Homo sapiens: one gene and its partner. Changing the gene in region 2 together with the main gene of any one other region gives a genetic interaction. Each region holds a gene or a part of one and is shown on either strand. Other genes may lie near its edges.

Region 1 (5,025 bases), on a different chromosome or scaffold from region 2:
ATTGCTACAATTGGCCTCTGGAATCTGATATCCCCCCAAGCACTTTGAAGACTTTAACTGACATTTTAAAATTCTACCCTACTGGACTAAATAAGTTATTCTCTGGAAGGAATGAAACTTTTTTTCTCCCTCTTATACATGCTGAAATATGTTTTCCCAGGGGGGACAAAAATAAAACAAAAAACACTCAAACAACTGAAGTCAATTATATACTACAGAAATCATTCAAAAGAATTATAAAGTGGTGCTATTATAAAGCATTTGGGTCATTTTGGATTATTCCTACATGCATCTCTAGGTATTACCCAACATGTAGAAGTCTTGTGTTCTTAGGAGGAAAGAGACATTCACTAAATACATTTCTGTTACCTTAACAGTTAAAAGTTTGTTTTAACTATTCATTTTTTCCTTCTCCAAAATGAGTGATTCTGCTTTCTATAGCCCAGTAGAAACCATATGCATATTGTAAATCAGAAAAAAAAAATCAAGGTATAGTATCCAAAAAGAGGGCTGTGATGACTCGATGCAGATTTATTTAGAAAGGGAGGCTTATATTCAATTTTTCATAAGTACTGATATGAGATCCCTTTTCCTAGAGACTTCTCTGAATGGATAGGAGAGCCCTGAGCTATTAGATTGTGGCCCCTGAATCACTCTGTGTCTTTACCCCTGAAAAGTTTGAGGGTGAACTTCACTAGAAGGAATCTCACAAACCCTTCTCCTGCTCTACCATACTTTTTCAGCTCGCCTCACTTCTTATAGCTTAGAAAAAAACCAACTCCAATGTCTCCAATATTCTTGGCCAAGGACCACCATCTGCTTTTGGTTTAATGGTGAAGTTAGACTCTAGATAGGCTAATTAGTCAGTGATGCAATATTCTCCTAGACCAGTTTATGTTTGAATAATATTATTGAAATTATCCTGTTTGTCAACATCAACAATTTGAAGGATGTTTAACTTATATCCCAAATGAGTTTAAAGGAGATATCTTACAGTACAACTGATTATATGACAGCTATTCACAAAAGAGACTATGCAATCTGATTGTTGGAACGCATAGAAAAATTAAAATGTCATTTTAATTAAATCTCCTAGATCATAGAATTTTGAAGTTGAGGATGATATTCCATTTATCTGAGTGTTCCCCACAAAACATGGTGCTTTTAGTAGACACAGTTAGATAAAGGAGGTTTGGATGGATGGATGGATGGATTTACTTGTTCAGAATAGGAAGAAACACAAATTTCTTTGGATTTTTTTCTCTAAACTTTCTCTGCCTTAATAGATATTTTTACTCTAATTAATTAATCTTATACTATTGATTCTAATTTGGTCCCAATATTTTAACATTAGAAATATTTTTTAAAAATCTAAATGACTTGGGGTAGAATTTTCAGAAAAGGGCGACTTATATCTAAGTTTCCTAATTATTGATGTGAGGCCCCCTTTACTTGGAGACTCATCTCTGTCATTTGTTCTCATCCTTCATCTCATCAGGTATTCTTTCAAAATGATACATAATAATGATGGTTCTAGTACTGGATGCAGTATATGAAGAAAGGGAATTATATAAAGTATCAAAAGATTAGTGTGTTGGATAATAAAATAATTGCATGAGAAGATGTTTCACATTTATTTACAACTTTTGACCCAAGGACCTATCCCTAAGCTTTGAATGTTTGTGTTTTTCTTTTTATTATACCAATTTATGTGCAAAGAGTTACCTTCTACTTCATATAAATAGTCTCATACTAGAAATTCCATGGAATTCAAGCCAATCCTTACTCGCATTCCTTCTTACGAAGTATACGAACTGAACAAATTTCCTTGCGTAGCAAAGGTGACATATGAAGATAATGTGCTGGCCTCTCATCATAGTCCCTGGATACCGTTGCAAGGTTCCTAATTTGCTTGGTTTGGCATTTCCACAGTCTTTATCTTAGCTCTTTTTTTAAAAATGTACTTAAATTAGTTAATTTGCTGGTTGCTTCCATATTGCTTGATTCAAAATCCAAAATGGAGTTCAGAAAAAGAACAAATAAAATTACAGCTTAAGTGCAAACTACATTTCTGAGTATCTGCCAGGTAGACATACCCAATCCAGTGTGTTTCTTCCAGTTCAATGGATTCCCTCATTGGGCCACCCCTGAAAGTATCAGTAGTTTTCCTGAACCACAGAGAACTGTCTCTTAGTTTCCCTTCTACTCTTCAGACAACCAACGGCCTATCAAGTAGTGTCATTTATGGAGAAAAAAAAATGTTGAAAAATGTAAAGGATGAGGGTGAAGATAATTTGATAGCATGAAAAATATTAGCCTCCCTTTCTTATTTTAAAGATTGTATACTTAAAGTAGTGGCCATTTCACTATATTAAAATATTTCTTGCTTAAATTCTGTGAAGAAGCTTTGATGTAAACATCTTTGCAATTAGAAATTAAAGCCAAAAATAGGGGAGCAAATATAAAGGAATCGGTCAGAGCAAAACAAAATGAAAAAAACCAAAAAGTGTTGAAAACATAATTACTAGTTATAACTTTAATGGAGATTTTTAAATTATGAAAGTTGAGTTGGCCATTCTTACTTGCTAGGACAGAAACTGCTGGGGAAAGAAACTGGATTCTCAATTTCAGACACCATCATATGTTATAGAAAATGTTATTCTTTTGTTCTAATGGAAACTTTATTATGATTTCCAGGGATGCTAAATATGCACACATCAGTTCCTGCAGATAGGAACAGATAGCATGGGTGTTTCAACCATCTGCTTTAAAAAAAAAAAAAAAAAAGAAGAGGAAGAAAGAAACAAAGAAAGAAAAAGAAAAAGAAAAAAAGTGACAGCTAGTTTGATAGTAGGCAGCATTGCCTTACATTTTCTGGTCCTTCTCTAGCTGTTTCATTCTCCTGACCAACCCATGCAGAGAAATGAAGAAACATTGTGGTTCCTCCTATCTTTCTCTTTCAGTCTTTCCCTCTAATGTTCAAGTTAGGTAAGCACATAACTATCATTGCATCTCTGTATCTTCCACTGGGAAGTGTCAAAACTACTGGCCTTGGGGTAGAAGGAAGACCACCAGAGAAAGAGAGGGGGGTGGGGAAATTGGAGCAGGTGTGTCTCTCCACCTAAAAAACCACAACTGAGCTTACACCACAGTATTCCGGTGTCTGTAAGGTGGAGGCGGCAGCACAGTGCCTGGCTTCAGGGAGAACTCAGAGAGGTATTCAGGATTCTCTGCCACAATAGGCCGGATCCGCCCATTCTGTTTATAAAAATATTTTGTGCTGTACTCCTGCAGGTAGTCTGGGTGCTGAAGGGTGCTCCGAGGTGGCAGGCTGTGGTTCCAGTAGTCAGGGTTGTCAAACGCTTTCTTGGCCTTCTCTGGCATTGACAGTATGTTGTTCTTCAGGTACTCAGCTTTTCCCAAGGTGTTGGCAAAGGTGTTGAGGTACAGTGGCTCATTCACATACTCATCCTCGGCCTTGGGTGGACCATTGGATGCATTGTGATATTCGGGATTATCCAATGCTTGAAGGTCTCCATTTTTTCTCCGAGAAACAAAAGGGTTCTCCTCCACTGGATTCAGGTATTCTAAAGGAATAAAAAAATATCAGCTAACCTCTAGTTTCTGGAAAATATTAATCAGACCAAGGTTATACATAATGGTTAGCTTCTTTGTCTAGAACAAAAAAACCCACAGATTTGTTTTCATGATTTCTCACAACAAGTATTTGTGGATCACCATTGTCTTATGAAAAAAAGAGTAAGTGGGTCAAAAATGTTTATAATAAAACAAGAAGCCAACGAGGCCAGAATCAGAATTTCTATCTCCTAAATTTTTCTTTCTTTCTAATTGCATTTGTCTCTTCTGCATATGGGGCTGGTTGTTTCAATGTTTTTGTTTTCTAAAAGTTATTTATATTAGGAAATAAGACTACCTATTAGGATTAAATAGTCTTTAAATATACAGACAACTTAACTTCTATAAAGGATATTGAAAAAACAAGAATCTATAGCTGAGTTCCATGCCAAGATGAATAGATGGAGTGAAGAAATCATGTTTTTTAGTCTCTATGGTTTGCTATGATTGCCTATACTGGTAACAAGGATTTAATTGGAGATGCTTCTGAAAAAGGTTTTACACATGGAAAAGAAAGCATCAAAGGAAAAAAATTCAACTAAAAAAGCAAATCTAACAGATAGCTAACATGCCTCTAGTTGACCTGCTTGACATTACATATACTTCTACTTAATAGTAAAGTATAATTATAATATTTCCATTGACCAATCATAATCACAAAGTAGCAAACTATCAGCTTGAATTATATAAAATAAAATAAATTTTGTATATTGAAACCAGTCAATTAGTGCCTATTTTGTACGGATCAATCTAATAAATCCATCTAGTATAGGTATTGGCCTAAAAGGTGCTAATAATTATCACCATTCTCCTGAAGCTTAATTCCACATCTATGTCTATAATATAGACTGCACATAGACATAAACACGCATGTATTGTAAGTCCTCTGACAGTCCTCTCTTTTACTATATACACAAAGCCCTAAGCTATTCCTATTTTGAATTCAAGGCATGAAGAGGGCACAATTCTTTGTTGAGAGGCCATTCTGAAACAAACTTTCTGTCTTTTATCCTTAGCCCAATAAGTAGAGAGAAAAATCCTATTAAGTGAGGATTATTTTTCTCCAAATATATATATACAGAATAGGTAAGTATTTAGCATCATTTATTCAACTTAAAGGGCAGTAATGAATATCCCACTATCATATATAGGCCTTTACAAGACACTATCATTTCATCCTCCCAATTCTGTGAAAAAGAAGTACAAGACTTATTTTTCCAGCTTTGTAGACAGAAAAATGAGATTAAATGATGTGTGCAGGATACAATTAGTGTTGGGATAGAATTCAGGTCTTCTAACTCCTCTTGCATAATCTTCTTATTCTACTGCACTGTTTTTTATTATTGCCCCTGCAGGAGTTGGGTGAACTTTATGCTTAGTAACAAGTTT
Region 2 (5,692 bases):
GAGCTGAGACTGTGCCACTGCACTCCAGCCTGGGTGACAGTGCGAGACTCCATCTCAAAAAAAAAAAAACAAAAAAAAAAAACCACTACCTTTTCAAGTGTGCTTCATCATCTTATATACTGTCCACCACAGACCCAAGGTCATAGACTATTTCTGCAGCCTAACCTACCAATCAGTCCTTTAACATAGAACTAACTATACAAGGATCCTCCCTCCTCCAACTCCAGATACCTTCAGTCCTTTCTCAGTATGTCTGAGAGCCATGATAGCATTTGTATCTCTCAAAATCACCCTCTATAAGGGCCTCATCTCTCCCGGAGATGTCCCACACCTATTAAGGTCAACAGGAGGATTTGGTTCTATTCTTGGAATTGACAGTGTTGTACCCTGCTAGCACTTACATGATGTGTTAATTCCAATGATAATTTTATCAATGTTGGTATCCACTACCATGCCCAAATCTGAACTAGACCTTCTAGAACTAGTTTATAAGTTTCTTGTGGGCAGAGATTTCATTTCTCTTTGTATAAGCCTAGAATCTAGCCTACTATCTGGAACATTGTTGGTGATTGTTATGTAAGTCGATGATGTTGACTGCCCCTTCAGCTAGGCAGTGATGTATCAATGGAAACCATCCCTGTTCTGGGTGTAATAGCTTTGAGTTAACTAGCAATGCATTCTGTGGGGCATAACAAAATGTTGAGCTAGCTCCTGGGCAGGGTCTTTGAATTGCTCTGATATTTCAGCATCACTCTGTCAATTGACATAATGCTACCCCTTTGGGCACAGGGGTTTGTAGAATACATAGCTCTGGGCTGCTGCAAAGGCATCTGGATTCAAAGACAGCATGTGTCTGGCTACATCTGCCAATAATATGTGTCTGGAGGGTTACAAAGCAATATGACTTTATACAGATGAAAATGAAAATTTTAAACTGACATTTGTTGATGTGAGTAAGGGCCACTGATGGAAGCAGTTTTAGAGGGCGGAAGCTATTAAAGAGATGGAGCCAGGACTTTGTCAGTAGGGGCAATAAGAAGTATAACTGGCTGAAATCTGAGAAAGAGCTCAGAACAAGGACCCCATAATAATACCAAAAAAAAAAAAAAAAAGAGCCAGAGCAGTAAGATAGGGTTTTCTAGTCAGTGGAGGTGGCAGCAGCATTGAGCCTTTGAATGGAGAACTGGACCAGTGGGGCCATTCTCTAGAGAAGTCATTTTGCATACAATTGATGACCAATTCAAGCCTAAGAAATGCAGTCCATGTAGTAAAAGTTACCCATTATTCACCTACTACTTGTAGCCAGTTTCCCAGAAGTCTTCTGGCTATGTGGAAGCAGGGAGCTAAGAAGCATGGACCCTTTCCTCTCCTAATCATCTCACCCTCTGATACATGTAAGTCTCTCCACCTTCAGCTTTTCCCCTGAGGCTACTCCCACAACCATCAAACTTTTCATAATCCCTGGTTGCAAAGGAAGAGAGGAGACAGGTGGTAAGAGCAATATCACCTTCTATAGTGGGCGTGGTCTTCCCTCCCTCTCTGAGTGGTAAGTCTAATGGCTTCTAAGGTTTACCTCTTCATCTAACCTCCGAAGTTTTCTCTTAAAGAAAATAATTTCCTCCTTTCCCTAAAACTACTTTATCCAAATTCAGCTACCAACGTCTCTGATACCGATCTTCCTTAGAATGTTTATTCTGTCCTAATACAAAACAGTTTTCTCTCTGGTCAAGGTCAAAGCCTCTCATTAATTTTTAGCACTTCTTATATACTTCCCTCCTGATCTGATACTCTAGTCAGTCACTAGACTCTAGTCTCTTGGTGCCAATGCCAAGTTTCTCATGCAGTCCAGGCATTTTTCTTTAATCAGTATAGCTTGGAGGAATCCAAGAGTCCCTTAGAGTTAGGAGTATAGAATGCCTGGGGGTCCTTGAATTTTATTAGATTTCCAACTTTTCACCTGGTGGTCTGTAGAACCATTTCTTTAGATGTGGCAGATGCTCCAATGAGTTAAAGAGTGGTAAGTCAATCCAAATCTCCTTTTCCTTTGAACCATTCTTGTTACTCTGATGAGCGTATACTATATTTATTCAATACACTCATCAAATATTTACTAAGTAAATACAGCAGTTTATATAGTACTTGAATAAACATTCAATAAGGATTTTTTTTAATATTCCCACTGCCTAGAAACAGACTTGGCACCTAGTAGACCCTCAATAAATATGTCCTGTTGCCCTCAAAGTGATTTACTTCCAGCATAAAGAGGCAGACAATAAATAAAGTTGGTTAAATTTGATAAGTGGTATGAAGAAAAATATAGCTGAGCAACAGGGAGAGAGAGTGATGGGGTATGCTGTAAGATGATCAAGGAAGGTACTCTGATAAGGGAACATTTGGGAAGAGACCTGAATGAAATGAAGTAAGAGCTATGCAAATGTCTGGGGAAAAAAGAAGCAGAAAATTCAAAGGCTCTGAAGCAGAAGAATGTTTGGTATGTTCCAGAAAGATCAGTGTGGCTGGGAGCAGAGTAAGAAGAGGAAGAGGGAAGGAGATGAGTTAAGAAAGCAAAATCCAATCTAGAGCCTTGTTGGCCAAGGTAAGGACTCTGGCTTTTATTCTGCATGAAATGGAGGACCACTGGAGGATTTTGAGCAGAGGAATGACAGGATCTGATGTATGTTTTAACAGCATTCCTCTGGCTGCTGTATTGAAAATAGGTGCAGGAAGAAAGGATACAAGCAGGAAGAATCTTTAGGAGAGTATTACAATAATCCAGGCAAGAGATGATGGTGGCTTAGACCAGGATGGAAGCAGTGTGGGTGGGGAGAAGTGGTCAGATTTTAGAGAGATTTTGAAGGAATGGCTGAAGGATTTTTCAGATTGATTAGATAAGGGATATGACAGACAGAGAAGAGGCATCAGTGACCCCAGGGTTTTGGACTTCAGGAACTAAACAGGTAGAATTGCCATTTCTGAGATGAGGAAGCAAAGGAGAGAAGCAGTGTAGAGGAATATGGGGAAAGAGTTTAGTTAGGCTTGTTAAATTTGAGGTAGCTATTAAACAGCCAAGTGGATATATAAGTCTACACTAAACATCACTGTGTATCATGAAAATAAGATGACTCTCTTTTGTACAAAGGACTTGTCATTGAAGAAGTGAGTCAGTCTGGAAACTGCTCTGAACAGAATAAGAGGTAGGATGGGATAGGTAAATCATAGTGGGGTGAGTTATGGCCAAAAAAAAAATCTTATCAGGTGTTGATTATAAATTCACAAATTACTTGATATGTTATAATAAAAATTTAACTATCTAAGCTCAGGTTTGCCTCACAAGTGTCAAAGAACAAGTCATTTACCTTGAAGAGTTAAGAACATGGCAGAAGTTCGTGACCAGCCTGGGCAACATGGTGAAACCCCGTCTCTACCAAAAATACAAAAAAAAAAAAAATAGCGGGGCACTGTGGCACACACCTGTAGTCCCAGCTACTCAGGAGGCTGAGGTAGGAGAATTGCTTGAGCCCAAGAGGCAGAGGTTGCAGTGAGCCAAGATCGTGCCACTGCACTTCAGCCTAGGCAACAGAGTGAAACTCCATCCAAAAAAAGAAAAAAAAAGAAAGAAAGAAAGAAAGAAAAAGAAAGTCTAGACCCTACTTCATTTGTTTGGTCATTCATCATTTAACAAATGTTTTTTACAGGTGCCCGCCACAACACCCAGCTAATTTTTGTATTTTTAGTAGAGACTGGGTTTCACTATGTTGGCCAGGCTGGTCTCGAACTGCTGACGTTGAGTGATCCGCCCACCTCAGCCTCCCAAAGTGCTGGGATTACAGGGGTAAGCCACTGCATCCAGCCTAGACTTTCTTTCTAGGAACTATAGATATTAAGCTTAATGATCTCCACAAATCCCTGTGAGAGAAAAAAATTTTTATAAACAGTTCATTAACTCTTGGAAACGGAAGGGATGTAGTGATCCTTAGGAGCTGCATAGGTTCACCAAGAACAAATCAGGCTGCAGAAGCCTATTTTCCTGTTTTCATCAGACTATTAAACTAGTTGATTAGAGGCATAGCATACACATAGTCTATCTTGCCTTTTAAAAAGAAAGTCAGTGGCAATATCCAGGGTATATACAATCTTTCTGACTCACCATTCAAGAATGACTAGGTTCATCTCAGTTTCTCCATTCAAATTACTTTATAAATGAAAGCATTGGCTAGCTAAGCAGGAGTCTCAAACACATGGTTAGTTTCAACTCTTAGAAAAGAAGTGAATTTCGTTTTCTTTACTACATTTCTTCCTTGAATTCACTGACTTGAGTTGGCCAGAAGTATTTCAGATCGTTTAAGTTTATTCGTACTAATTATGTGAGGCCTTTGGTTGTTGTTCTTCTTCAAAGAAAGTATGATACCTTCACTGTGGGTGTTGAGTCACAACAGTTCTAGAAATCTGTGCCAGGATTTCTTGCTGTGTCTTATCTTTGTGATGTGTTTCTGAAGTAATAATAGCTCCAGGTGGCTTGTTTGGTCATCTCTTGCACAGCACTCCAGAAATCCACAGAACTTTATTTTCTAGTTAGAATGAAATGTAGAATGTATTTGGGAGGTCATGAGGCCTTAGAATCAGGTAAAATGAATCCAGAATTCCCAAGGAGGTAGTTTCCATATTTCACAAATATTATTGTAAAAACATCTGTTCTCTTCCGATAGGAGCATTTTCAGGAGTTAATAAAAATCTTAATATCTCTCCACACCTGCCTGCCTTCCATGTTTCCGTCCTGGTAAGAGAATAAAATTGCAGCATGGTGTAATAGAAGAGGTACTAGACTGAGCTGCAATTTCTTGATTCCAATCTTGATGTCACTGCCACCTTACCAGCCATGTGAACTTGGAGAAGTCACGTACTTCTAAGCTTCAGTTTTCTTGTCCTTAAAACAGGGATAATTAGCCCTGCTTACCTCATAGAGTTGTTGTGTTTATCAAAAGTGTTAATGTCTGCAAAAGTACCTCATTTTATTTTATTTTATTTTTGAGAGGGAATCTCGCTCTGTCACGCAGGCTGGAGTGCAGTGGTGCAATCTCAGCTCACTGCAATCTCCGCCTCCTGGGTTCAAGTAATTCTCCTGCCTCAGCCTCCCAAGTAGCTGGGATTACAGGCACCCGCCACCACACCTGGCTAACTTTTATATTTTAGTAGAGGCAGGGTTTCACCTTGTTGGCCAGGCTGATCTCAAACTCCTGACCTCAAATGATCCTCACGCCTCGGCCTCCCAAAGTGCTGGGATCACAGGCACGAGCCACTGCACCTGGCCTACAAAAATACTTCAAAAATTATTAAGTGCTATTACTATGCTCTCTCTGGAAAATGAACACACTAGTATGGTGTGCCAGGCATTTGGGGCATTCACATTCCCTAATTTATGGACAACAATTATAATTTCTTCAGAAATGCTCTCTATCAGCCAAATTGCCCATTTTTGTTCTCACTCATGCTATCCAAGCCCATAGGAAGAAGACTCCAAGCCTCACACTATGGCCTACCTCATCACAGCAAATGATCACATCTGCACATTGCTCTGTGGCACTATCTCACTCTGGCTGGCTGGCTGTATATATGTATCCCTTTTTGTTAGTATTTCAGAAATTTCTCTTCCTTGTAGTTTACTTTTGGACATATCAAAAAACTTAGTATTCTT

What was found. Genes that interact genetically often act in the same process or in processes that back each other up.
Region 1: changes in EDA (region 2) and ERBB4 together harm fitness less than expected from each alone (positive genetic interaction), as found in Homo sapiens cells (one large-scale study listed by BioGRID).

The regions. Positions count from the first base shown.
Region 1 is NC_000002.12:211,380,474-211,385,498, forward strand, and holds part of ERBB4 (receptor tyrosine-protein kinase erbB-4 isoform JM-a/CYT-1 precursor), read right to left. Parts: intron 3,588-5,025; coding exon 3,142-3,587; 3' UTR 1-3,141. UniProt on the Homo sapiens protein: Tyrosine-protein kinase that plays an essential role as cell surface receptor for neuregulins and EGF family members and regulates development of the heart, the central nervous system and the mammary gland, gene transcription, cell proliferation, differentiation, migration and apoptosis.
Region 2 is NC_000023.11:69,957,423-69,963,114, forward strand, and holds part of EDA (ectodysplasin-A), read left to right. Parts: intron 1-5,692. UniProt on the Homo sapiens protein: Cytokine which is involved in epithelial-mesenchymal signaling during morphogenesis of ectodermal organs. Functions as a ligand activating the DEATH-domain containing receptors EDAR and EDA2R. May also play a role in cell adhesion.